Linked DNA regions of Homo sapiens. The protein of the gene in region 4 purifies or fractionates together with the protein of the main gene of each other region. This does not show direct contact. Each region holds a gene or a part of one and is shown on either strand. Other genes may lie near its edges. The genes, in order: USP24, ARB2A, ARG2 and DHX34.

Region 1 (4,136 bases), on a different chromosome or scaffold from region 4:
ATCAAGAGCCTCAGTTTCCCACTGTGTACACCAAGGATGACCAAGAAGTTCCATAGGTGGCATGCATTAAGATTATTAAACCACAGAGGCACATTCTGCGTTAAATGTTTCCAAAAGGCTCCTGTGTGTCAGGAAAGTCTCAGCCTGCCAACCTCTGCCAATACGCTTCGTGGGTAAAGCAGCCTCAGTCACCAGCTCCTCTTGAACTCTTAAAAGTAAACGGTGCAGCTTCCCTCCCCCAGGCCAAATCCACAGGTCTAGGAGAAATGAGGACTTGATGCACTGCTTCGAAAAGATGGAGATTTTATGGATTTTAATTTACCGCAAACCAAACTCCTTAGCCTGCCATTCACGTAAGAAGCCACTCCCAATTCTTTGTACTTACATGTACTGGCAGTAAGCTAAGGTTAGCGCTAATGTTAACATGAATGCACCAAGCATTGTAATTTAAATTGATTTTCCAATCACAGGAAATTAAAAGGTATGACAAAAGAAAAAAAGAATCACATTTCTCACATAATGAGGATACACTGAGCTTTGCAGAGTTATACAAACACCTTCTGAAAAAGCAACGGCTTTCTTCTTGATTTCAAAACTGGGTCAAAAACTAGAAGGAACGAGGGAGGAGTGATAGGAACTGCCAATGAGAAGCTGATTTCTTAAAATGACTTAAGTATGGTTACTCAATTATATGGGAATTTAAAAAAATTCCCAAACTAGGAATAGTAACAATCTTTATTTCCATATACTAGTCAACGATACAGCTAAGTTAGTGGGTTACAGAGGGCAATCTAGCAACTGTGTCTAAGTGTGGAAGCCAAAGAAATCTTGTGCAGAAACCTGTTCTTTTTAAGTGCCACCTTCTTGTTCAAGCTACTTCAGCCCGAGGAACTGTTGCAAAAGCATACAATTAAAAGGATATAACACTGCTCAGGAAAAAGTGTTTCAAAAGGCTTAGCTTCACTAAGCTTAATTCTTCATTAAGAACGAACCAAATTCGTATCTCTACCTAATAACGCAATCCCAATAATTTGAGATCTGTGCTTTTCTGTGGTCAGGCCAAGCTGCTCTACTGGCCCCTGAAATGAACTACCCAACGAATCTGACCAAAATTCCTGCCATGAGCTACTATGTTTCTGCAAAGTAATTATTCAAAAGCACTGCTGCTTCTGGTCGATCTTTTTTCTTTATTATAGAAGAGTCCGTTTTCTTCCCCCACGTTCCTTGCTCACACCCCAAACTAAACAGGCATAGTCTTCTCCACCTAGACTTGAGGTCTCTGATCAAAGCCATTAGCCTCAAGACTCCTCCTCCACCCCCACTGCGCTCCCACCCTGTTCCGCGCCCCTCTGCATAGCACCCTCAGTATGACTACCATCTCTTTCCCCGGTCTAATTTTCTCTCATTTCTGACCTTATCGATGACCAGTACTCCCTCTTTACCCAGACCTGGTGCCAGCTCTATCTTCCAATTCCAGTCCCCATCCCTGCCTAGACCCTCCTCAGCTCCCACCCCTGCCCAGGCCTCCCACCTCTGCCCTCTCAGTGCAATCCCCACTGCTCTCATACCTGATTTTATTCAAGTCCTCATTCCTGGCCGCGGCCCCTTCCCTCTTCATTTTAAATCCTACTCAATGCCCCCCCTTTCCGACCCTTGGCTAAAACCCCAACCTCACTCCTAACCCCAACAGTTTTCCTGTGATCCTGTCAAAGACCACTACTCTGGCCGGCCCACACCGCTTTTTCTGACTCTGAGCCTGGTGCCTCCGCCAATCCTTCACTGAAACCTCGTGCCACAAAATCTCCGACCTAGCCTAGTGCACTAGTACCCCATTTCCGACCCCCTACTGCACGCATCCTTCCCACTATATGCTCAAGTGTCTGTCCTCCCATCTCGGATGATAGCCCTGGAGCCTCCTCCCCATCGTCGGCGTGCATAGCCGGAAGCCTAAGGGACCCCTCCTCACCCCAACCCACAGCTCCGCTGCGCATCCCTAATTCCCTTTCACACGCCTCTCCTATGGGTCCCTCTCCCCACTTACCCCCAATCAAGTGACTTCGGTTCCCAACTGGAGCCTGGGGCTTCTCTCTCTCTCTCCGCCCCGCCCCCACTAAAGCCCCAGTCGAATGCCCTCTCTCCCCACACCAAGCCCAGCGGGGTGTGTCCCCTCCCAGGAACTCCAGCCCAGTGGCTTCCCACAGAGGTCTGGGGTTGCCCCTCCTCACCTCCGCGTCCACCACCTCGTGGTAGGCGGGCGGGGGGTCGAAGCCGCCCCCGCCTCCGGTGCTCCCGCCGCGGGAGGGGCCGCCGCCGCCGCCGTCACCTCCGCCGTCGCCCCGCGGGCCCCCGCCGGGCCCGGGGCTGGGGCCACCGCCGCTGTCCATGGGCTCGTAGCCGCCGTAGTCGAGGCCCGGCCGCTCGTTGGTGAGCAGTGCCACGGCCTCGTTAATGTCGTTCTTGGCCAGGCGCAGGGCCTTGCGGATGGTGGCGGGGTCTGAGAAGCCCATGCACAGCAGCGTGGTCATGTGCTGCTCCTCCTCCGATTCCATGGCTTGGGCCTCCTGGCCGCCCCGGCCAGCGCACGGCGAAGCTACGGGTCCCGGGCCTGGCGGGCCGCGCGGCGCACCCTCCGCGCCGCCTCCGCGCCCAGGTTGGCCCCTGCGTTCCTGCCCCGGGTGCTCCGCAGCAGCCGGGCCAGGCTGGGTGCGGGCTTGGGTCCTGCGAGCCGAGCTAGTGCGGTGAGGCGCTCAGGCGCGGCTGCGGCCCGGCCCAGCCCTGCGCGCCGCCATGTTGGCCTCCTCCCCCTCCGCCTCCTCCTCCCCGGGCGGCGGGGCCGCGCCTCGGCTCCCGGAAGCGGCACGGGAGGCGACCGTGCTCGCCGTTGGCAGGCTAGGGTTGGCGGCGGCGTATTCTGTTTGTTTTAAACGAAGGAGCGGAGGGAGGGGCCGCGCCGCGGAGCGTGCCTAAGGTGAAAGGGCTGCCGTGCAGCCAGGCAGAGGCGAGGAAGGCTTCTCCATCGTCGCCACCGCCCGCCTGTTTCGCCGGCAACAGGTTCCCCCGGGACGGGAGGGGCCGCAGCGCCGCGCAGCTCGCAGCGCTGAACGTCGCGGAAATCCCTTGGCCGGCCGAGCCTCCGCAGCCGCGACCCGGCTTCTCTCCGTCCGAGTCCCCCGAGCCTCTCCGAACCCCCGTTGGACTTCCCCTCCCTGGCCGGCGCCGCCCGACCCGCTCCCCCATCCTAGAGGGAATTCCCTGCGCCGCGGCTGTGAGGCACCTCCACCCCGGCCTGAAATGCACCGCAGTCCTGAAGGAAATCCACCCTCATCCCACGCAGATTCACCCGCAACGCTGCCTGAATACGCCTCGCTGCCCACAGAAATTCCTGCCCAAACCAGACGCGTGGACCACCCAAGACGAAATTCACACTCGACCCTAGCCCCGCCAGCCCTTGCCGAAATCACCCTAAACCCGTTGAAATTAATTCCCAGCTGTCCGAATTTTCCTTCCAACATTAACTGACTACCTGTCTCCGCCAAGCTGACTGAACTCTACCGAACTCTTACCCTGAAAGCCCCTGAGAGTCCAAAATATATTTTTCCAGCCCGAAATCTAAATCCCAGTTCTCTGTATGAAAACCTCCAGAAACCCAGACTCTTACTTCCTTCGGCCACGGACTCGTTCGAACATCGTGGACATCACCTTCCCACATTTTTACCGCAGTCTTTGGCTCCGATTCTTTGTCCCTGCCTCTTGGGCAGCATCCTATCCCTGTTTCTTTCCACCTTTGAGGATTCCTCTACCTCTTTAAAGGCCTGCTTTCTTTGCTTTCTCTTCTCACCTTTGGCATTGGCACACTGGGGTCATATCTTTAGTTCCCTTGACTCCACCATCTAAGCCAAGGGTGTCCAATCTTTTGGCTTCCCTGGGCTACATTGGAAGGAGAAAAATTGTCTTGGACCACATATAAAATATTCTAACGCTAATGGTAGCTGATGAAACTTTTAAAAAATCTCATCATGTTTTAAGAAGTTTACGAATTTGTGCTGAGCCGCATTCAAAGCCGTCCTGGGCCTAAGTCCTTGCTATTTTTCCTCTTCAATTTCCTTCAATCCATAGTTCTCTAGGTTATTTTCCCA
Region 2 (7,608 bases), on a different chromosome or scaffold from region 4:
ATCCAGAATGTCCAATTGCCTATAAGTTCAAGGTAACAACGTCTTTTTTTTTTTTTTTTTAACTATTGAATGTTTTGTACACTGTCATAATTTATTAGATACTCTTGGGGGTGCTACGTTGAGCTATTTCAGTTATAAAGCTCATTTAAATCAATTACTTTGCTTTAGTTTAATGAATGAAAAATTGTATGACAATTTTACTTGTAACTCCTTGGCAAATTAAAATTGATTAATTTACTGCAGATGAGATGGCAGATGACTGACTCAAGGTTTCACAGCTAAGTTACAGAGAAATTAGAGACAGAAGTGCTATGCTGCTTTCTCTAATATTGTTTGTTGTCTCCATTTGGAGGAAATGATCTCTTTTGTAATATACGTAATTGAGATAATTTTTGCTTCAGAGAAAATAACACTGTGAAGACCATCAAAGCAAAGCATTTCTTCATATCAGATTATTTATGTTTTACTTGGAAATTGCTAAAGGAGTAGTTTTTATTTCATTTTTAAACTTTTATTCCTTTCCAACTTTTATTTTAGTTCAGGGGGTACATGTGCAGTGACCCGATAGGTAGTTTTTCAATTCTCATCCTCTTCCCAACCTCCACCCTGAAGTAGACCCCATTGTGTATTGTTTCCTTCTTTCTCCATGTATACTTAATGTTTAGCTTTCATGTATAAGTGAGAACATGTGGTATTTGTTTTTTTTTTTTTTTTTTTTTTCTGCATTGATTCACATAGGATAATGTGAAGCTCCATCCATGTTGCTGTAAAGGACATGATTTTATTCTTTTTTATGGCTGTGTGGTGTTCCGTGGTGTATATGTGCCACATTTTCTTTGTTCAGTCCACTGTTGATGGGTATGTAGGTTGATTCCATGTCTTTGCTTTTTTGAATAGTGCTGCGATGGACATATGAGTACATGTTGTCTTTTTATTAGAATGATTTATATTCCTTTGGGTAGGTACCCAGGAATGGGATTGCTGAGTTGAATGGCAGTTCTTTCTGTTTTAGGTTCTTTAGAAATTTCCAAACTGCTTTCCACAGTGGCTGAAATTTACATTCCCCCCACCACTGTATAAGCATTCAGTTTTCTCCACAACCTCATCAGCAGCTGTTATTTTTTGACTTTTTAACAATAGCCCTTCCAACTGTTGTGAGATGGTTCTTATTTTGGTTTTGATTTGCATTTCTCTAAAGCTCAGTGATGTTGAGCATTTTTTCATATGTTTGTTGTCCATGTGTATATCTTGTTTTGAGAATTGTCTGTTCATGTCCTTTGCCCATTTTTTATGGGTTTTTTTGCTTTTTAATTTGTTTAAGTTCCTTATAGATCCTGGCTATGGGACCTTTGTAGGATGCATAGTTTGCGAATTTTTTTCTCCCATTCTGTAGGTTGTCTGTTTACTGTGTTGATAGTTTCTTTTGCTGTGTAGAGGCTCTTTAGTTTAATTAGGTCTTTCTTTTCAATTTTTGTTTTTGTTGCAGTTGCTTTTGGAGTCTTCATATGAAATCTTTGCCAGGGCCTAGATTCAGAATGGTATTGCCTAGATTTTCTTTTAGAGTTTTTATAGTTTAAGGCTTTACATGTAAGTCTTTAATCCATCTTGAATGGATTTTTGTGTATGGTAAAAGGAAAGGGTTCAGTTTCAATCTTCTGCATATGGCTAGGCAGTTATCCCAGCACTCTTTATTGAATAGGGAGTCCTTTTCCCATTACTTATTGTTGACTTTGTTAAAGATCAGATGGTTTTAGGTGTGTGGCTTTATTTTTGGGTTCTCTATTCTGTTCCATTGTTTTATGTGTCTGTTTTTTTTTTTTTTCCAGTACCATGCTGTTTTGGTTACTGTAGCCTGGTAGTATAGTTTGAAGTCAGATAGTGTGATACCTCTGGCTTTTTTCTTTTTGCTTAGGATGGTTTTGGGTATTCAGGCTATTTTTCAGTTCCATATGAATGTTAGATATTTTTTCTAGTTCTGTGAAAAATGTCATTGGTAGCTTGATAGGAGTAGCATTGAATCTGTAAATTACTTTGAGCAGCATGGCCATTTAAATAATATTGATTCTTCCTATCCATGAGTAAGGAATATCTTTCCATTTGTGTTGTTTCCGATTTCTTCAGCAACATTTTGTAATTCTCATCGTAGAGCTCTTTCACCTCCCTGTTGAGCTGTATGCCTAGGTATTTTATTTCTTTTGTGGCTATTGTGAATGGGATTGCATTCTTGATTTGGCTCTCAGCTTGGACGTTATTGCTGAAATGCTACTGATTTTTTTGACATTGATTTAGTATCCTGAAACTTTGCAGAAGTTGTTTATCAGATCTAGGAACCATTGGGTAGAGAGCATGGGGTTTTATAAGTGTAGAATCATATCATCTGTGAACAGAGATAGTATGACTTCCTTTTAATTTGGATGCCTTTCATTTGTTTCTCTTGCCTAATTGCTTTGGCTGAAATTTCCAGTACTATGTTGAATAGTTGTGGTGAGAGTGGGCATGCTTGTCTTGTTCCGGTTTTCAAGGGAAATGTCTCTAGCTTTTGCCTATTTAGTATGATGTTTGCTGTGGATTTGTCATAACTGGCTCTTTTTATTTAAGGTATGTTCCTTCAATGTCTAGTTTGTTGAAAATTTTTAACACATGTTAAATTTTATCAAAAGCCTTTTCTGCACCTATTGAGATGATCATATGGTTTTTGTTTTTAGGTTTGTTTATGTGTTGAATCACATTTACTGATTTACATATGTTGACCCAACCTTGTATAACAGGAATAAAGCCATTTTGATCATGGTAGATTAGGTTTTTGATGTGCTGCTGGTTTTGGTGTGCTAGTGTTTGTTGAGGATTTTTACATCTATATTCATCAGGGATATTGGTCTAAAGTTTTCTTTTTTCGTTGTGTTTCTACAAAGTTATGGTATCAGAATGATGCTAGCTTCATAGAATGATTTGACGAGGAGTCCCTTCTCATTTTTTGGAATAGTTTAGTAGGGTTGGTTTCAGCTCTTCTTTATATGTTGGGTGGAATTTGGCTGTCAATCTATCTTTTCCAGGACTTCTTCTGGGTGTAGGCTTTTTATTACTGATCAATTTTGAAATTCACTATTGGTCTGTTCAGGGTTTCAATTTCCTTCTGATTCAATCTTGGGAGGTTGTATGTTTTGAGGAACTTATCCATTTTTCTCTAAGATTTCTAGTTTGTGTAGGTAGAGGTGTTCCTAATAGTCTCTGAGAGTTTTTTTTTTTTATTTCTGTGGGGTCAGTTGTAATGTTCACTTTGTCATTTCTGATTGTGTTTATTTGGACTTCTTTCCTTTTTTCTTTATTTGTCTAGCTAGTGGTCTGTCAATCTTATTTATTCTTTCAGAGAACGACGTTTTGGTTTCATTGACCTTTTGTATAGTTTTTCATGTCTTAGTTTTGTTCAGTCAGCTCTGATTTTGGTTTTTTCTTCTGCTAGCTTTGGGGTTAGTTTACTTTTTTTTTTTTTGGTTGCTCTAGGTGTGATTTTAGGTTGTTAATTTGAGATCTTTCTAACTACTTGATGTAGGTGTTTAGTGCTATATACTTTCCTTTGAAGACTGCTTTAGCTCTGTCTCAGAGAATCTGGTATGTCATTTCTTCCTTTTCATTAGTTTCAAAAAATTTATTGAATTCTGTCTTAATTTCATTGTTTACCCAAAGTCATTCAGGAACAGATTGTTTAATTTCCACATAATTATATGATTTTGAGAGATCTATTCTTGTACTGTGGTTAAGAATGTGGTATAATTTCAGTTTTTTTTTTTTTTTTTTGAATCTGTTGAGAATTCCTTTATGGCTGAGTGTGTGGTCAATATTACAGTATGTGTCATGTGCAGATAAGAAGAATGTATATTCTGTTGTAGTTGAGTGCAGTGTTCTGTAGATATCTGTTAGGGCCATTTGGTCAAATGTCAAGTTTAGGTCCTGAATATCTTTGTTAGTTTTGTGCCTTGATGGTCTGTCTAGTACTGTCAGTGGGTGTCAAGGTGAGGTCTTCCACTATTATCGTGTGGTTATCTAAGTCTCTTTGTAGGTCTCTAAGAACTTATTTTATGAATCTGGGTGCTCCAATGTTGGATGCATGTATATTTAGGGTAGTTAAAGTTTTCATGTTGAATTGAACCCTTTATCATTATTTAATGCCCTTCTTAGTCCTTTTTGATTATTGTTGCTTTCAAGTCTGTTTTGTCTCAAATTAAAAGAGCAATCTGTCTCTTTTTTGTTTTCTGTTTGCTTGATAGATTTTTCTCTATCCCTTACTCTGAGTCTGTGGGTGTCATTGCATGTGAGAGGGGTCTGTTGAAGATAGTATGTAGTTAGGTCATGTTTCTTTATTCAAATTGCCACTCTGTGTCTCTTAAGTGGTGTAGTTAGTCCATTTACATTCAGAGTCAGTATTGATATGTGAACATTTGATCCTGTTATGCTGTTATCTGCTTGTTATGTAGACTTAATTTTGTAGTTGCTTTATGGTGTCAATGGTCTGTGTACTTAAGTGTGTTTGTTTTTGTGGTGGCCAGTAATGGCCTTTCAATTTCATATTTAGTGCTTCCGTAAGGACCTCTTATAAGGCAGGTCTGGTGGTAGTGAATTCCCTTAGTATTTGCTTATCTGAAAAGGATTTTATTTCTCTTTTACTTATGAAGCAAAGTTTGGCTAGATATGAAATTCTTGGTTAGAATTTCCTTTCTTTAAGAATGCTGAATAAAGGTCCCCAGTCTTTTCTGGCTTGTAGGGTTTCTGCTGAAAGGTCAGCTGTTAGCCTGATGGGGTTCCCTTTGTAGGTGACCTCTCCCTTCTTTTTAGCTCCCTTTAAGATTTTTTCTTTCACTTTGACCATGGAGAATCTGAAGACTATTTGTCTTCAGCATGGTTGTCTTGAATAGCATCTTACAGGGGTTCTCTGCAGTTTCTGAATTTGAATGTCTACCTCCCCAGTGAGGTTAGGGAAATTTTCATAATTTTTAATTATGTTTTCTAAGTTGCTTTCTCATGTCTCTCTCTTTCAGGGATGCCAATGTGTCATATGTTTGGTCTGTTTACATAATCCCATGTTTTTTGGAGATTTTGTTCATTCTTTTTATTCGTTTGCCTTTATTTTTGTCTGATTGAGTTCATTCGAAGAATTGGTCTTTGAACTTTGAGATTCTTTCCTCAGTTTTGTCTATTCTTTTCTCAGCACTTCTGATTGTATTATGAAATTCTTTTAGTTTTTCATCTCTATCAGATCAGTTTGGTTCCTTCTTAAAATGACTATTTCATCTTTAAGTTCTTGTATTATTTTATTGGATTCCTTAGATTCCTTGGATTGGGTTTCAGCTTTCTCCTGAATCTTGATGATTCTCCTTGCCATCCAGATTCTGAATTCTATGTCTATAATTTCAGCCTGGTTAAGAACCATTCTTTGGCAGGTGGTGCAGTCATTTGGAGGTAGGAAGACACTCTGACTTTTTTTTTTTTTTTTTACTTTGGAATTATTAATATTATTTCCTATGATATAACATAGTTAAAGCTAATTTTCAGGAGGAAAGTTTCATTTTGTAATTATTCATTATTTACACTATGACGGGGAGGGCTTTAGTATTCTTTTTTTTTTCCTGGTTATTCCTTTTTTTAAAAAATTATTTTAGGTTTGGGGATACGTGTGTAGGTTTGCTACATAGATAACATGTGTCACAGGGTTTGTTGTACATATTACTACATCACCCAGGTATCAAGCTCAGTACCCAATAGTCATCTTTTCTGCTAATTGCCCTCCTCCTCACCTCCCTCTCTTAAGTAGACCCCAGTGTCTGTTGTTCCTTTCTTTATGTTCATGAGTTCTCATCATTTGGCTCCCACTTACAAGTGAGAACATGCAGTCAGTATTTGTTTTTCAGTTACTGTGTTAGTTTGCTAAGGATGATAGCCTTCAGCTTCATCCATGTTCCCGCAGAAGACATTATCTCATTTTTTTATGACTGTGTAATATTCCATGGTGTGTATTTACCACATTTTCTTTATCCAGTCTGTCATTGATGGGCATTTAGGTTGATTCCATATCTTTACTGTTGTGAACAGTACTGCAGTGAACATTCACGTGCTTGTGTCATTATGGTAGATAGTCTTCCTCTGAGTGTATACCCGGTGATGGTATTGCAGCGTCAAATGGTAGCCCTGCTTTTAGTTCTTTGAGGAAACGCTATACTGCTTTCCACAATGGTAGAACAGATTTACACTCCTACCGACAATGTATCAGGGTCTCCACAACTTCGCAGGCATCTGTTATTTTTTGACTTTTTAATAATAGCCATTCTGACTGGTGTGAGATGGTATCTCATTGTGGTTTTGATTTGCATTTCTCTAATGATCAGTGATATTGAGCTTTTTTTCATATGCTTCTTGGCCACATGTATGTCTTTTAAGAAGTATCTGTTCATGTCTTTTGTTTACTTTTTAATAGGGTTGTTTGTTTTTCTCTTAGAACATTGTTTAAGTTCCTTGTGGATGCTGGACTTTCTCCTGAATCTCCATTTTTGCCAACTATGCATCTGATTAAGACAGATTTTTTTTCCCATTCTGTAGGTTGTCTGTTTACTCTGTTGATAGTTTCTTTTGCTGTGCAGAAGCTCTTAAGTTTAATTAGATCCCATTTGTCCGTTTTTGCTTTTGTTGCGATTGCTTTTGGTATCTTTGTCAGGAATTCTTTGCCCGTTCCTAGGTCCAGGATGGTATTGCCTAGGTTGTTTTCCAGGGGTTTTATAGTTTTGGGTTTTACATTTAAATCTGTAATCCATTTGAGTTTATTCTTGTATATGGTATAAGGAAGGGGTCCAGATTCAGTCTTCTGCATATGGCTTGCCAGTTATCTCAGCACCATTTTTTGAATAGGGAGTCTTTTCCCCTTGGCTTGTTTTTGTCAGCTTTGTCAAAGATTAGATGGTCGTAGATGTGTGGCCTTATTTGTGGTCTCTGTATTCTGTTCTATTGGTCTATATGCTGGTTTTTGTACTCGTACTATGGTGTTTTGGTCCCTGTAGCCTTGTAGTATGGTTTGAGGTCGGGTAACATGATACCTCCAGCTTTGTTCTTTTTGCTTAGCGTTGTGTTGGCTATTTGAGCTCTTTTTTGGTTCCATAAAATTTTAAAATAATTTTTTCTAGTTCTGTGAAGAATGCCTTTGGTAGTTTGATAGGAATAGCATTGAATCTATAGATTGCTTTGGGCGGTATAGCCATTTTAATGATGTTGATTCTTCCTTTCCACCAGCATGGGATGTTTTTCCATTTATTTGCGTGTCATCTCTGATTTCTTTCAGCAGTGTTTTGTAACTCTCATTGTAGAGCTCTTTCACCTCCCTGATTAACTGCATTCCTAGGTATTTGTGTGTGTGTGGCAGTTTTGAATGGGATGGCCATTTTGATTTGGCTCTCAGTTTGGTTGTTGTCGGTCTGTAGGAATGCTAGTGATTTTTGTACATTGATTTTGTATGCTGCAACTTTGCTGAAGTTGTTTATCAGCTGAAGGAGCTTTTGGGCTCAGACCATGGGGTTTTCTAGATATAGAATCATGTCATCTGCAAATAGGTAATTTGACTTCCTCTCT
Region 3 (7,608 bases), on a different chromosome or scaffold from region 4:
TATGGCCTGGGAGCCTCTAACCAAGAAGTCCTCAGGCTGTGGGTATATCAGTCGCTATTGTTACTACCCCCTCCTTGCTTTCTTACAAAGAACAGAGACTATGTCTAGTCTTTATACCCCTAGCATCTGGCAGACTGCCTGGTCCATAATAGTGATGAACAAATGAAGGAGTGGTAATCCACACTCAACCCACCCTTCACCAAAATCTTAACTGAACTAGACCAACTCCAGCAAAACCCTGCAAGCCATTCACCTTTCTTTTCGTTTTGGCCCACTGACCTTATCCTGTAGTTCTCTGAGGAGAAATGAAACTGGCTGTCCATGGAGATTTCCTGATGAAGTGGTAAGGGGTGTGTTGATGTCAGCATGGGCATCAACCCAGACAACACAAAGGTCTGGGCAGTGTCGGGCATGGCCACTAATGGTACCGATTGCCAGGCTGCAAAGAACAAGTATAATCTTGAAGGCCCTCTGCTTGGCAAACATGACCGATAACAAACGTCCTCAGCCAAAACAACTTATACTCTCTCCACAGTGCAAAGCCAGGGCCTAGATGGAGACTGGGTTTGGGTGAGGCAAGACCTGTAGTTGTAGTTCTCAAAAATTAATCTTGAGTGATAAAGCCCTAGAGATTCGAAGCTGGTGACTTGCTACCCTGCAGTGTGACAGATGTCACTGCTGTCCTGTCCCCAAATCCGTATAATTTTATCCATTAGCCCTGCTCAGAAAAGAACCTCAAATATTTGTTCAATGAATGAAATCAAGTTAAGCCAGACAAGATGGTGTACACCTGTAATCCTGGCTACTCAGAGGACTGAGGTGAGAGGATCACATGAGCCCAGGGGTTCAAGACCAGCCTGGGCAAAATAGTCACACCCTGTCTCCAAAAATGAAAAAAAAAAAAGAAATCTAGGTAAATGGTACAGTCTATAGGTAACGACTCACCAAAATCTGTAAGAAAAGCTCTTGGAGACATTAACAGGGTAAACCATTAAAGACCTAATTTAGACCACTGAGTAAAAAGATGTATTGCATGTTACCTTATATATATTAGCATGGCATTCAATTTTTTTTTTTTTTTTTTAAGACGGAGTCTCGCTCTGTTTCCCAGGCTGGAGTGCAGTGGCGCAATCTCAGCTCACTACAACGTCCGCCTCCTGGGTTCAAGCTATTTTCCTGCCTCAGCCTCCCGAGTAATTGGGATTACAGGCACATGCCACCATGCCTGGCTAATTTTTTGTATTTTTAGTAAAGATGGGGTTTCAACATGTTGGCCAGGCTGGTCTTGAACTCGACCTCAAGTGATCCACCTGGCTCAGCCTCCCAAAGTGCTAGGATTACAGGCGTGAGCCACTATGCCCAGCCTCAAATATAAGATCTTAAAGTGTATTTCTGTTTTTGCCTTTCCTTGTCCTTGGGCTCTGCTTACATTAGCCAACTGTTCTGTCTCAATTCTAAGAATACACCTGATGAAATAAATGTTGGAAAGCTTCCCAGTAACCAAGGAATTTGACATAGATGGGAAATGCAGCTTAAGCATCTTAGGACTGCAACCATCCTTCTTGGTCAATATAGCATGAGACAGCTATTCTAGGTGCCATGTCCCACACTGGTTGGGTCTTTTGAGGAATAGCATGGTCTAGTGAAAAGGCAGTGGATTAAGTCAGAATACTAGAGTTTTAGTCCTGGAAGAGCTGTGTGACTGAAGACAAACCATCTAATTTCTTTAGATTTCAGTTTCCTTTTCTGTGAGATAGGGATAATAATAATACTTGGCCTGTGTAAATCAGAGTTGCTTTGATGATTAAAGTAGTAATATATGTTAAACTACATAAAAGGAGCAGTGACCTAAAAATGGCTCTTCTTGAAAATGTTCAACAGCTATTCAAGTTATGCACTTATCTCTTCCTCTCTAGAATTTCAGATTGCCTAAGCTTTAACATTGAGCTGGTAAGCAGTAACATGGCTGCAATATAGATAGCCACAGGAAAAGAAAACAAGATCTGTGGTAATCACATTGATCAGTGGTCCCCAAACAGTGAGACTTGACCAGAACTCAGAACAGCAGACAGACTTAATAAATTTCCAGAGACTACACTGAGAAAGGAGGCAGGAGACTTGCCCTCTGGTTGATTTAATTGAATGGCCTAGTCATCTCAGTAGGGAACCTGGGTGTGACCGTTTTCTTCAACCTGAGTCTTTTTTTTTTTTTTTTTTTTTTTTTTTTTTACTCCCAAGGAGGAATCTACCTGCTTCTCCAGATGTAACAAAGATTTCATTTCTGTTCAGTGATCTGAAAAGCTTTCTCAGCACCTCAGGGAAAATAATCACCAGAAGAGTCACACTGGATTTGAATCCCAGCTCTATTTCCTGGTTCTAGTCCTTGGATAAGTTATATTTTCTTTCTTATTTATTTATTTTTAAGAGACCTGATCTCACTGTGTTGCCCAGACTGGCCTCAAACTCCTGGGCTCAAGCAATCCTCCCACCTTGGCCTCCTGAGTAGCTGGGCCTGCAGGCATGCACCACTGTGCCCACCTTGGATAAGTTCTTATATATCTGTCCCTACATGCTTCCAGCAGTAAATGATAAAACCATATCTACCACCTAGCATTGTTAGCAGAATTAACTGAGAATATGTATGGAGTGCTCAATACTCCTAGTACTTCAGTGCCTTCTTCCTACTGAAGACCTTCATTGCTTATTTCAAATCACATTCCCTTGTGAAATCTATTTTAGTCCAGACTGATCTCTTCCTCCTTTGAAATTCTGTAGAATTCAATATTTTTGTTTATTCCATGTATATTTATTTCATCTAGGCCTTAATATATCACAAATTTCCTGCAATCTCTAGCACTGCTGAGAAAATATCAGAACAGTGCTCAATAAAGTACATGCTGATTCAGGAGGAGACAGGATCAAAGGACTGATTGCATGAGTCACTAGGGTCCATATTGTGGAGGCAGAAAATGTATCCACAGCTGGGCACAGTGGCTCATGCCTGTAATCCCAGCACTTTGGGAGGCCTTGGCAGAAGGATCGCTTGAGCTCAGGAGTTCGAGACCAGTCTGGGCAACATGGCCAAACCCTGTCTCTACAAGAAATACAAAAATGAGCCAGGCATGGTGGCATGCACCTGTAGTCCCAGCTACTTGGGAGGCTGAGGTAGGAAGATGGCTTGAGCCTAGGAGGCAGAGGTTGCAGTGAGCTGAGATCATGCCACTGTACTCCAGCCTGGGCAACAGAGCCAGACCCTATCTCAAAAAAAAAAAAAAAAAAAAAAAAAAAGAAAATGTAGTAACATGCCAAAGGGGATTTCTAACAGGTCTATTAGCAGAAATGCTAACAAAAACTTGCACATTCAGCCTATCAATGGATCTTTCTAATTCTCCAAAGTCATAAGATAAGTCTCAAGAAAGCTTTCCAGGAGACAAGCATGTTAACACAGTGCCTAGGAACCTTGCCTAGTATACCTCTGAACTTGCTGTGTCTGAATGTACATATTCTTACTGTGCAATGTGTCATACAAAGAAAACCACAGTGCCCCTTGAGCAGCTCAGGATCTTAGACATTTAAATGCTTGCTGTTCATTTTAATATCTACCCTAAAAATTCTGTAGGGTATTTTTCTCCAGATGAAGAAACAGATAAAGAAGCTAAGTTATGAGCCCCAAGCACCATGTAATCCATCCCCTCACCACGCCTGGCTCCCAGCTTACCTGTGGTCTCCTCCCAGTGTGACACAGCTGTAGCCATCTGACACAGCTCTGCTAACCACCTCAGCCAGTTCCTGGTTGGCAAGACCCACTGAGCGTGGATTCACTATCAGGTTGTTGTAGAGATCATCTTTGGGGACTGGAGTAAAACTCAAATCTCCAAAGTCTTTTAGGTGGCAGCCTGGAAGCAAATGAGGGATGACAAGATGAATTTTCTGTGCTATCTCCAACTCTTAACTAGCCTGGGCCACAATGATAATACGTGACAAAGTACACATCATAATCATTTTGTCACAGTAAAATTTAAAATGTCAAATGATTGTGGGAAGATTATCTCGATCCTATTATGAACAGTTTTGCAGATGTTGGAAACTGAAACTAAGAGATATCGATTGACTTAACCCAACAATAAAAAAATGGTTAACCATTAGACCTCAGATATCCTGGAGTGATAGAGTAGAAATAAAATATCAAAAAGAACCAACAATCTTAAAGAAAATTAAGAACCAACAATTTTAAAGGAAATTAAGTACTATTAATTTAGCAAAAAAATACACAAAGAGAGTCTCATTTTTTTAAACTTTCTTTTTGTAGAAATGGGGTCTTGCTATGTTGCCCCAGCTGGTCTCAAACTTCTGACCTCAACTGATCCTCCCGCCTCATCCTCCCAAAGTGCTGGGATTATGGGCATGAGCCACCTGCCTGGCCAAGAAATTCACATATTATAAACTTTTATAAATAGCCAATCTGAAACATCCTAAAAGAAATATCTAATATTTATTGATTATTTACAAGATCCCAGGCATTGTTCTAGCTGCTTAACATAAATTCTTATTTAAGACTCAAAACAGTTGTGTGAGGCAACTAAAATGTGCCTATTTGGTGGATGAGGAAACTGAAGCAAAGAGAAGTAACCGCCCAAGTTACACAGCTATTAAGTGCCAGAATCAGGATCCAAATCTAGGCCATCTGGCTCCAAAGTTTGTACAGGTTGAGTACCCATTATCCAAAGGCTTGGGACCAGAAGTGTTTTAGATTTTTTATTTTTTTCAGATTTTGGAATATTTGCATTATATATATATTGAGATATCTTAGGGATGGAACTCAAGTCTAAACACAAAACTTGTGTTTCATACACACTTTATACACATAGCCTGAAGGTAATTTTATATAATATTTTAAATCATCTTGTGCATGAAACAAAGTTTGTGTGCATTAAACCATCAGAAAACAAAGGTGTCACTATCACAGCCACCCATGTGGACAATATGATTGTTTGGCATCACCATCTTCCTGACTCTGAATTTATATGCTACTGATAGGCAGTTATTTTCTTACTTTTTCACACATAAGTACTTAAAAGCAGAAAATATGACATACCATTAATACAGTGTGTTCAGGGTAACTTGTAATGTCATATTGGTGCTCAAAAAGTTTCAGATTTTGGAACATTTCCGATTTTGGATTTCTGGATTAGGGACGCTCAACCTCTATCCTTTACTATGCAGTTTGTCTCCTAAGGAATTCCTCATGAGTCCAACACTTTAAGAACTAGTGCTATATTCTCACAGCTTTGAATATTTCCCCACCTAAGTTGGATGCTACATTTAGGATGAGGACTAAATAATCTGACTGTATCAAAAAGGGATCTGAACTATCAGAGAACAGAACATTGACATAGATTATATTCTTAGGGTCCTGGTATTGGTGGGAAAGGGGCAGTAACAAGATAAGACGTGGCGTATCTTAATATTTGCAGAGATTTGTGTTAAAGGTTCGGATTAAGAGCAGCATGGACTCATCATGAATTTAAATTATAATTTTGAGCTCTACCTCTTGAACCCAAACTCAATCCAAAGCCAAAATTCTGAAGAAATATAAAAATTTGAGGAGCAGTGACCATAACAAAAAGCCATGAGGCCAACCAAGGAATTGCCACCGCAAGAGATATTGGAAACAAGACAGAAAACTTTGTCCTATTCTTTTTTTCCTCCCCAGCCCTTGTGTCACCCAGACCTATTCTTAAAGGTGAGATACACCTACAGCAAGAATTCTGTATTTATCTTTTGGTCATTACACTTTAAGAAATAGTCATATAAAAGGCCCCAACCTGGAGAAGATCCAGACAACCAGATAAAAAGGTAGCAGAGCAGGGGTAGGAGGAGAAAAATATGACAACAGGCCAAAGACATTGTGAACCAAGATAAAAATGTGAACCAAATAAAACATCTATAAAAATCTTTTATTTTTTTAAAAAAAGACAAAAAGGTTTGAGTAAAGTCATTATGGACTTCACCAAATCTCAAAATATGGAGAGGATACTTTAGACTTAAGAGAATGAAAGCTTTAATTAACCTTCAAGTCAATATCAAGTCTTTCCTCTGTCTGTTGACAACACAATCCTGGACTGCACAGACTTTTTTTTTTTTTTTTTTTTTTTTTGAGACAGGGTCTTGCGCTATCATGCAGGCTGGAGTGCAGTGGCACAATCTCGGCTCACTGCAACCTCCACTTCCTGGATTCAAGCAATTCTCCTACCTCAGCCTCCCAAGTAGCTGGGATTACAGGTGTGCGCCACCACGTCTGGTGAATTTGTTTTTGTATTTTTAGTAGAGACAGGGTTTCGCCATGTTGGCTAGGCTGGTCTCGAACTCCTGACCGCAAGTGATCCACCTGCCTCGGCCTCCCAAAGTGCTGGGATTACAGGCATGAGCCACTGCACCCAGTGTACTGTACAGATCTTGAATGGACAATTCCTGGATGTTTCTACTTTCACCTCCATGTTTATCTCAGCACTCTCCTTAAATCACATCAACCATTAGGTTCTTACTAGATGTAAGACACCAGGGTATGCCTGGTGTTTTATAATATTAGGTGTACAATTATAAAAGATTTATAATCTTTATAAATTTATATTTTGGTAATTGCACTCTAAGGAATAGTCATATAAAAGGCCCCAAACTGGAGTTAAATAATATTAACTAACGTTTCAGAACTATTTGCCAAGCACTTTCATTCAATCCTCATAGGACCAAGAAGAAATACAGGGAAATTAAAGTGCTCAATCCAGTGGATAAGTCACAGAACTTTGGGACTACCCAAGTCCAATCATGCAAACCAGGATGTAGACTCAGATAAACGTGACAGAAAACAGTACTCACTTGTATTAGAAAAAAGCTGCACAAAGCCTAAAAAGGAACCTAAAGAGAATTTGGCAATCTTACAGTAACGTTCCCAGGAAGAGAGACTGAATTTCATAGAAGGATTTCAGTCGCTAATTCAGGCCACCACTCTGCTCTCATTACAGGTGCTAGAAGGGTTACTAACTTCTGTCGGGGGTTCATCAGATTAATTCCCAACCTGGGTAGTGGATTCTGTCCACATTGTCCAACTCCATTTACTCCGATGCCATCTCACCAAACAGCATTCTGGCTATTCAGTTGGTTTCCCACATGCCTTAATATGGGCAAAAGCTTCTAGACAGTGGACACTGGAAGGACTACTGCTTAACATAATTATGCACGGGCATTTTGGTTGATCCAGCATGGTTAGCATGAGTCTGGGTCTGAAAGCCTGATGAGCTATGCACTCAGCAACCTTGTGTTTCTGCATCCACAAAGCTAAGGGCCAGCCTCCTCTAAAGGGATTTATACCTTGAGAGGCCCTGCCTGAGTGGCCTACCTTCCTGCTCCCAACTCTGTTTTTTCTTTTTTCCCCCTAGAATATTCAGGAAGAACGAACTCAACTCTATAATTTGCACAGTTTCAGTGCCAGGTAAGGACTTGGGACAATGAGTCCTAAAGGAGTCAGGGGAAGTTCACTGAGGATCAGGGGCGTCAAAGAAGAACTCCTATGACAAATAGTTTGTACTTGCACTGTTTTGTTTTGAAATT
Region 4 (7,608 bases):
GTCCATATGGCAGTATCAATAAAAATGAAGCACTTACCCTTGGACCCAGCGATGATTCTTCTAGAACTTTATCCACAGAGTGGCTTGTCTGTGGTCTACATGACAAAGGAGCTAGCATTAACCAGTGTAGCACTTTAACAGCAAAACAATGGGAAATGTCCTAAAGGCTCATCACTTTTTTTTTGAGACGGAGTCTCACTCTGTGGCCCAGGCTGGAGTGCATTGGTGCGATCTTGGCTGACTGCAACCTCTGCCTCCCGGGTTCAAGCAATTCTCCTGCCTCAGCCTCCTGAGTAGCTGGGATTACAGGCACCCGCCACCATGCCCAGCTAATTTTTGTAATTTTAGTAGAGACGGGGTTTCACCATGTTGGTCAGGCTGGGCTCAAACTCCTGACCTCAGGTGATCCACCCACTTCGGCCTCCCAAAGTTTTGGGATTACAGGTGTGAGCCACCACGTTGGGCTGCGAGGGTAATTCTTGACGATCACTGCAATGCAAACTGCCATCTTGGAAGGCCAATAATAGTCCTTCTGTCTCATGGTGGTCATGAGGATGAAATGGGTTGATATACATAAAGCACTTAGAGTGGCATATAATGTCCTGGCACATAGCAGGGACTCAAGAAAAGGTTATTGCTATATAGTTAATATTATATATACATGAGGCACAGTGCTAGATACTTTCTGTGCATTGTCACATGGAATTCTCACAGCATCTAGGAGGAGAACTATAAGGGATGGCATTGCCTGCCCAAGGTCAGTTGGCACTAAGTGGCAGAGGTGAGATTCAAACCCAAGCTGTTGGACTCCAGAGTCTGATGGGTAGGCATGGTATTTGCTTAGATTTTCTTTTTGCTTTTTCTTTTTTTTGAGATGGAGTTTCACTCTTGTTGCCCAGGCTGGAGTGCAATGGTGCGATCTTGGCTCACTGCAACCTCCGCCTCCCGGGTTTAGGTGATTCTCCTGCCTCAGCCTCCCAAGTAGCTGGGATTACAGGCATGCGCCACCACGCCCGGCTAATTTTGTTTGTATTTTTAGTAGAGATGGGGTTTCTCTATGTTAGTCAGGCGGATCTCGAACTCCCTACCTCAGGTGATCCGCCCGCCTCTGCCTCCCAAAGTGCTGGGATTACAGGCGTGAGCCACCGCACCCGGCCTGCTTAGATTTTCAATTTGGGCAGGGCCAGGGGCTGGTACCCAGGCTCAGGGTCCTCTCCTGATCCTTTCTTTCTCCCACCCCAGGTCGGCTACCAGATCCGCTTTGAGAGCACACGTTCGGCGGCCACCAAGATTGTATTCCTGACAGTGGGGCTGCTCCTGCGACAAATCCAGCGGGAACCCAGCCTGCCCCAGTATGAGGTCCTGATTGTGGATGAAGTCCATGAGCGGCATCTCCACAACGATTTCCTCCTGGGCGTCCTCCAGCGCCTGTTGCCCACGCGGCCTGACCTCAAGGTCATCCTCATGTCGGCCACCATCAACATCTCGCTCTTCTCCAGCTATTTCAGCAATGCCCCTGTGGTACAGGTGCCTGGGAGGCTGTTCCCCATCACGGTGAGTACTTCCCCCTCCTCCCACATCCCCAGACCTCCAACCTGGTCTCTGTCCAAACCTGGACATGCCTCTTCTCTCTGCTGCTGTATCTCCCATCTCTTTCATTTAAAGATGTTCTCTTTTTTTAAAGCTACCATTTTCTGAGCATTCATAATCAGCTGGTTAGAGTGCTAAGTGCTTGTTAGAGTAAAAGCTGTTACAAGAAGACCCAAAAATGGCTGGGCGCCGTGGCTCATGCCTGTAATCCCAGCACTTTGGGAGGCCGAGGTGGGTGGATCACGAGGTCAGGAGATTGAGACCATCCTGGCTAACATGGTGAAACCCCATCTCTACTAAAAACACAAAAACAAAATTACCCAGGCATGGTGGTGGGTGCCTGTAGTCCCAGCTACTCGGGAGGCTGAGGCAGGAGAGTGGCGTGAACCTGGGAGGCGGAGCTTGCAGTGAGCCGAGATCGCGCCACTGCACTCCAGCCTAGGTGACAGAGTGAGACTTTGTCTCAAAAAAAAAAAAGACCCAAAAATGTAAAGTCTCAAATAAGAGAAGTTTATTTCTCTCATATAACAGTGTGGCTGGTCCAGGCTGTTGGGCAACTCTGTTCCATGTGGTCATTCAGGGATCCGGGCTCCTCCTTTGTCATTACTCTGCCATCTCACTGGGCAGGATTTCTCAAAGTCAGCAAGATTGACATTTCAGTCTGGATAATTCCTTGTCGTGGGGGCTGTCCTGTGCATTGTAGGATATCTAGCAGCATCCCTGGCCCTACCCACTAGATGCTAGTAGTCTTCTCCTCTGGTTGTGACTATTAAAAATGTCTCCAGACATTGCCATATGTTCCCTCTGGGGCAAAACCACCCCTAATTGAGAAACACTGTCCTAGTGAGTTATCCTTGTCTGTATAGTCAAGACTTACAGGAAGAACTTCATTGTCTCTTGTGATTTCTGGTTCCGGATGCCCATCAATTTGCCTTCTAAGCAGCCATAAAAAAAGAAAGAATGGGTCGGGCACGGTGGCTGGTGCCTGTAATCCCAGCACTTTGGGAGGCTAAGGCAGAAAGATCACGAGGTCAGGAGCCCAAGACCATCCTGGCCAACATGGTGAAATCCCATCTCCACTAAAAATACAAAAATTAGCTGGGCATGGTGACGCACGCCTGTAATCCCAGCTACTTGGAAGGCTGAGGCAGGAGAATTGCTTGAACCCGGAGGTCGAGGTTGCAGTGAGCCAAGATGGCTCCACTGCACTCCACCCTGGGAACAGAGCAAGATCCCATCTCAAAAAAAAAAAAAAGAAAGAAAAGAAAGAGAGAGAGAGAGTGCGAGCCGAGTGTGGTGGCTCATGCCTATAATCCCAGCACTTTAGGAGGCCGAGGCGGGTGGATCACCTAAGGTCAGGAGTTCGAGACCAGCCTGGCCAACAAGGTAAAACCCCGTCTCTACTAAAAATGCAAAAATTAGCTCGAGTGGTGGTGCGCCCCTGTTATCCCAGTTACTCAGGAGGCTGAGGTGGGAGAATTGCTTGAACCTGGGAGGTGGAGGCTGCAGTGAGCCGAGATCATGCCACTGGGTGACAGAGCGAGACCCTGTCTCAAAAAGAATGAGGCTGCTTCCTGAGAAATGTTTTCTAGGGTTTTTGTTTTTTGTTTTTTGTTTTTTTTAGTAGAGACGACGTGTTGCTATGTTGTCTGCCTGGTCACGCATACCTGAGCTCAAGCAATCCTCCCGCCTTGGCCTCCCAAAGAGCTAGGATTACAGGTGTGAGCCAACTATGCTGGGAAATCAGCCAACCAACCTGGCTCAGGCTCAGGGTCCTCTCCTGGTCAGCCAACCAACCTGATTTCTAGGTTTTTAATCCTGGTTTCATCACCTAGAATATTTTTCTTGTTGAAGCTACTCTAAACATAAGATAATGCATGCATTGTAAGTATATAGCTTAATTAGTTTTCACCAGTTACATACATCTGTGTAGCTAGCACCCAGGTTTAGAAAAGTCAAACATTGCCAGCACCCCACAAGCCTTGCAGTTGCTTTGTTACTTTGTCTTTTTATTACATCCTTCAGAAATTATCTAGCTGGAGTGTGCTGTCTGTCACCTGACTGTTTCTCAATTAGGGGTGGTTTTGCCCCAGAGGGAACATATGGCAATGTCTGGAGACATTTTTAATAGTCACAAGCAGTGGAGAAGACTACTAGCATCTAGTGGGTAGGGCCAGGGATGCTGCTAGATATCCTACGATGCACAGGACAGCCCCCACGACAAGGAATTATCCAGACTGAAATGTCAATCTTGCTGACTTTGAGAAATCCTGCCCAATGAGATGGTGGCATAATGAGAAAGGAGAAGCCTGGATCCCTGAATGACCACATGGAACAGAGTTGCCCACCAGCCTGGACCCGTTGCACTGTGTCTTCTCCGTTAGCCTGTGGTCTCCCCCGTCAGCCTGCAGCCTCCCCAGCCCATTGCTCTGAGCTGGAGGGACAGGGTGTGCTTCTACCTGGGGCTGTCTCCTCTCAGGTTGTGTACCAGCCGCAGGAGGCGGAGCCGACCACGTCCAAGTCAGAGAAGCTGGACCCGCGGCCTTTCCTGAGGGTGCTGGAGTCCATTGACCACAAGTACCCGCCTGAGGAGCGGGGTGACCTCCTCGTCTTCCTCAGCGGCATGGCGGAGATCAGCGCCGTGCTGGAGGCTGCCCAGACCTATGCCAGCCACACCCAGCGCTGGGTGGTACTGCCACTGCACAGCGCCCTGTCTGTGGCCGACCAGGACAAGGTATCACAGGAAGCCCGAGTGGGGCAGGCGGGGGGTCTGCATGAGTCAGGGGTGGCTGCGCACAGGACTTGTGTAACTCCACAAACACAGGGCTCGGGGGCTGTACTTGTGCAAAGTCGTAGCCACCTAGTGGCAGAGCCAGGCTGCGAACCCAGGTAGTCTGGCCCCGGAGCCCATGCTCTAAACCAGAGGTCGGCAAACTTTCTATAAAGGGTCGGAGTAGATGATGTCAGTCCTATCGACCATGGGCTCTCTGTCTGTCACAGCTACTCAGCCCCACTGTTGCAGCATGAAAGCAGCCATAAACTGAGTGGGTGAGGCTGTGTTCCAAAACAGTTTTTTTTTTTTTTTGAAACAGGGTCTTGCTCTGTTGTCCAGGCTGGAGTGCAGTGGCACGATCAGGGCTCACTGCAGCCTTGACTTCTTGGGCTCAAGTGATCCTCTCTCCTTAGTCTCCCAAGTAGCAACTATAGGTGTGTGTCACTAAACTCCATTAATTTTTTTTTCTTTTTGGGACAGAGTCTCACTCTGTCGTCCAGGCTGGAGTGCAGTGGCATGATCGTGGCTTACTGCAATCTCCACCTCCCGGGTTCAAGCGATTCTCCTGCCTCAGCCTCCTGAGTAGCTGGGACTACAGGCACCCGCCACCACGTCCGGCTAATCTTTTGTATATTGAGTAGAGACGGGGTTTCGCCATGTTGGCCAGGCTGGTCTCGAACTCCTGACCTCAAGTGATCTGCCTGCCTCAGCCTCCCAAAGTGCTGGGGTTACAGGTGTGAGCCACTGTGTCCGGCCTCCGTTAATTTTTTTTTGAATTTTAGTAGCAAAGAGGTCTCACTGTGTTGCGCAGGCTGGTTTCAAACTCCTGAGCTCAAGCGATCCTCCCCTAGTGGGGGCAGTGCCAGTTTATGCTTCAGCAGATCCCTCTGGCTGCCATGTGAGTCTACAGGCCAGAGATCTGAGGGGAAGCTGGAGTAGGATCAGAGTGGGCGAGGAGAGGCCTGGACCAGGGCAGGGGCTGGGCTGTCGGAGGAGGGAAGGATTTCAAGAAAAGTTCCAGATGGCCTGGTACATTGGCTCATGCCTATAATCCCAGCACAGGAAGCTGAGACAGGAGGATCACTCGAGCTCAGGAGTTAGAGACCATCCTAGGCAACACAGTGAGACCTTGTCTCTACAAAACGGAAGAAAACTAGCTGGGCATGGTGGCATGTGCCTATAATCCCAGCTACTTGGGAGGCTGATGCAGGAGGATCGCATGAGCTCAGGAGGTCAGGGCTGCAGTGAGCTGTGATCACGCCACTGCACTCCATTGTAGGCCACAGAGTGGGATCCTGTCTCAAAAAAAAAAAAAAAAGTTCAAGATGTTCAGGTCGGGGGAGCAGGTGTGGTGGCTCATGCCTGTAATCCCAGCACATTGGGAGGCCAAGGCAGGCGGATCACCTGAGGTCAAGAGTTCAAGACCAGCCTGGCCGACATGGTGAGACCCCGTCTCTACTTAAAATACAAAAATTAGCCGGGCATGGTGGCGGGCACCTGTAATCCCAGCTGCTCGGGAGGCTGAGGCAAGATAATTGCTTGAACCCGGGAGGCAGAGGTTGCAGTGAGCCGAGATCACGCCACTGCACTCCAGCCTGGGCGACAGAGCAAGACTCCGTCTGAGGGTGGGGGAGGGCCCAGGATGGCCCAGGTGATGGGGTGGACGGTGAGCCATCTCCAAAAGGGAGGTCTCTGAAGGAGGAAAGGGTTCCAGGGAAGCTGCTGACACGGGGGTGGGCAAGAAATTGGACACATAGGTTAGTCGGGGCTGAGTTAGTTCCTGACACCACCCCCTCCCTTCCTCCCAGGTATTTGATGTGGCACCCCCTGGAGTCCGGAAATGCATCCTCTCCACCAACATTGCTGAGACCTCAGTCACCATTGACGGGATCCGCTTCGTAGTAGATTCCGGTAAGGACCACCATGAGCCCCTACCCACCACCCCCAAGGACTTAGGAGCATGGGGTCCGGAGGTGTGCGTGTGTGGCAGGGGCGCACCAGCTTGGATTGGGAAGTACAGTTGACTTTCCCATATCCAAAATGCTTGCTTGCAACCAGAAGTGTTTGGAATTTCGGGTTTTTTTGAATTTGGAATATTTGTATCAATTTTATTATTTGAGTATGTCAAATCCAGAAATCTGAAATCCTCCAGTGAGCATTTCATTGGAGGGTCACGTTAGTGCTGAAAACATTTCAGATTTTCGAGCATTTCAGACTTTGGATTTCCAGAATTGGGATGCTGGAAGACGATGTGTGGGGCCATGGACCAATGGCAACATCTTAGTTTTTCTCACACCTTCCAAGCCTGCTTCTGCCCTGGGGCCTTTGTACTGTTCTCTCTGCCGAGAGCTGTCTTTCTCCAGGTATCCACACAGGTGACGCCCTCACCTCATTTCAGGGCCCGCATAAATGTCCACCCGTCAGAGAGGCCCATACTGTCCACTCTGTCTAAGAGATATCCCCTCCTCCATCCGCTGTTGCTTGTCATATGAGGGGGATTGACATTCTGTTTGTTGTTGTTGTTGTTGTTGTTGTTGTTGTTGTTTTGAGACGGAGTCTTGCTCTGTTGCCAGACTGGAGTGCAATGGTGCAAGCTCCGCCTCCCGGGTTCAAGTGATTCTCCTGCTTCAGCCTCCCAAGTAGCTGGGATTACAGACATGCATCACCACGCCCGGCTAATTTTTGTATGTTTAGGAGAGATGGGGTTTCACCATGTTGGCCAGGCTGGTCTCGAACTCCTGACCTCAAGTGCTGCCTGCCTCAGCCTCCCAAAGTGCTGGGATTACGGGCATGAGCCACCACGCCCAGCCCGACATTCTATTTTATGTGCTGCTCTGTTTGCTCACTTTCTGTCTTCCTGACTGGAATGTTCTCTGGGAAGTCAGCATAGCATAGTGTTTGGAGACACTGGAGCCTGCCTGGCCAGGTTTAGTGCTGGCTGTGTGGCTGGGGTCATGTGACTGACACTTCATGTATCGGTTGGCTCATCTGAAAAATGACAATGGCAGGCCGTCCCGGCTGGGCGCGGTGGCTCACACATGTAATACCAGCACTTTGGGAGGCCAAGGCAGGCAGGTCACTTGAAGTTAGGAGTTTGAGACCAGCCTGGACAACATGGTGAAACTCCGCCCCTACTAAAAATACAAAAATTAGCCAGGCATGGTAGTGCGTGCTTGTAGTCCCAGCTGCTCAGGAGGCTGAAGTGGGAGAATCACCTGAGCCCAGGAAATCGAGGCTGCAGTGAC

Evidence for each region.
Region 1: the proteins of DHX34 (region 4) and USP24 purify together in Homo sapiens (affinity purification with mass spectrometry; one large-scale study listed by BioGRID and IntAct). This does not show direct contact.
Region 2: the proteins of DHX34 (region 4) and ARB2A purify together in Homo sapiens (affinity purification with mass spectrometry; one large-scale study listed by BioGRID and IntAct). This does not show direct contact.
Region 3: the proteins of DHX34 (region 4) and ARG2 purify together in Homo sapiens (affinity purification with mass spectrometry; one large-scale study listed by BioGRID and IntAct). This does not show direct contact.

The regions. Positions count from the first base shown.
Region 1 is NC_000001.11:55,212,565-55,216,700, forward strand, and holds the start of USP24 (ubiquitin carboxyl-terminal hydrolase 24), read right to left. Parts: upstream 2,801-4,136; 5' UTR 2,550-2,800; coding exon 2,226-2,549; intron 1-2,225. UniProt on the Homo sapiens protein: Ubiquitin-specific protease that regulates cell survival in various contexts through modulating the protein stability of some of its substrates including DDB2, MCL1 or TP53.
Region 2 is NC_000005.10:94,099,983-94,107,590, reverse strand, and holds part of ARB2A (cotranscriptional regulator ARB2A isoform 1 precursor), read left to right. Parts: intron 1-7,608. UniProt on the Homo sapiens protein: Plays a role in the regulation of alternative splicing, by interacting with AGO2 and CHD7. Seems to be required for stabilizing protein-protein interactions at the chromatin-spliceosome interface. May have hydrolase activity.
Region 3 is NC_000014.9:67,638,474-67,646,081, reverse strand, and holds part of ARG2 (arginase-2, mitochondrial precursor), read right to left. Parts: intron 7,490-7,608; exon of another isoform or gene 6,369-7,489; intron 3,897-6,368; coding exon 3,719-3,896; intron 440-3,718; coding exon 280-439; intron 1-279. UniProt on the Homo sapiens protein: May play a role in the regulation of extra-urea cycle arginine metabolism and also in down-regulation of nitric oxide synthesis. Extrahepatic arginase functions to regulate L-arginine bioavailability to nitric oxid synthase (NOS).
Region 4 is NC_000019.10:47,353,797-47,361,404, forward strand, and holds part of DHX34 (probable ATP-dependent RNA helicase DHX34), read left to right. Parts: intron 1-1,242; coding exon 1,243-1,554; intron 1,555-4,069; coding exon 4,070-4,324; intron 4,325-6,171; coding exon 6,172-6,274; intron 6,275-7,608. UniProt on the Homo sapiens protein: Probable ATP-binding RNA helicase required for nonsense-mediated decay (NMD) degradation of mRNA transcripts containing premature stop codons. Promotes the phosphorylation of UPF1 along with its interaction with key NMD pathway proteins UPF2 and EIF4A3.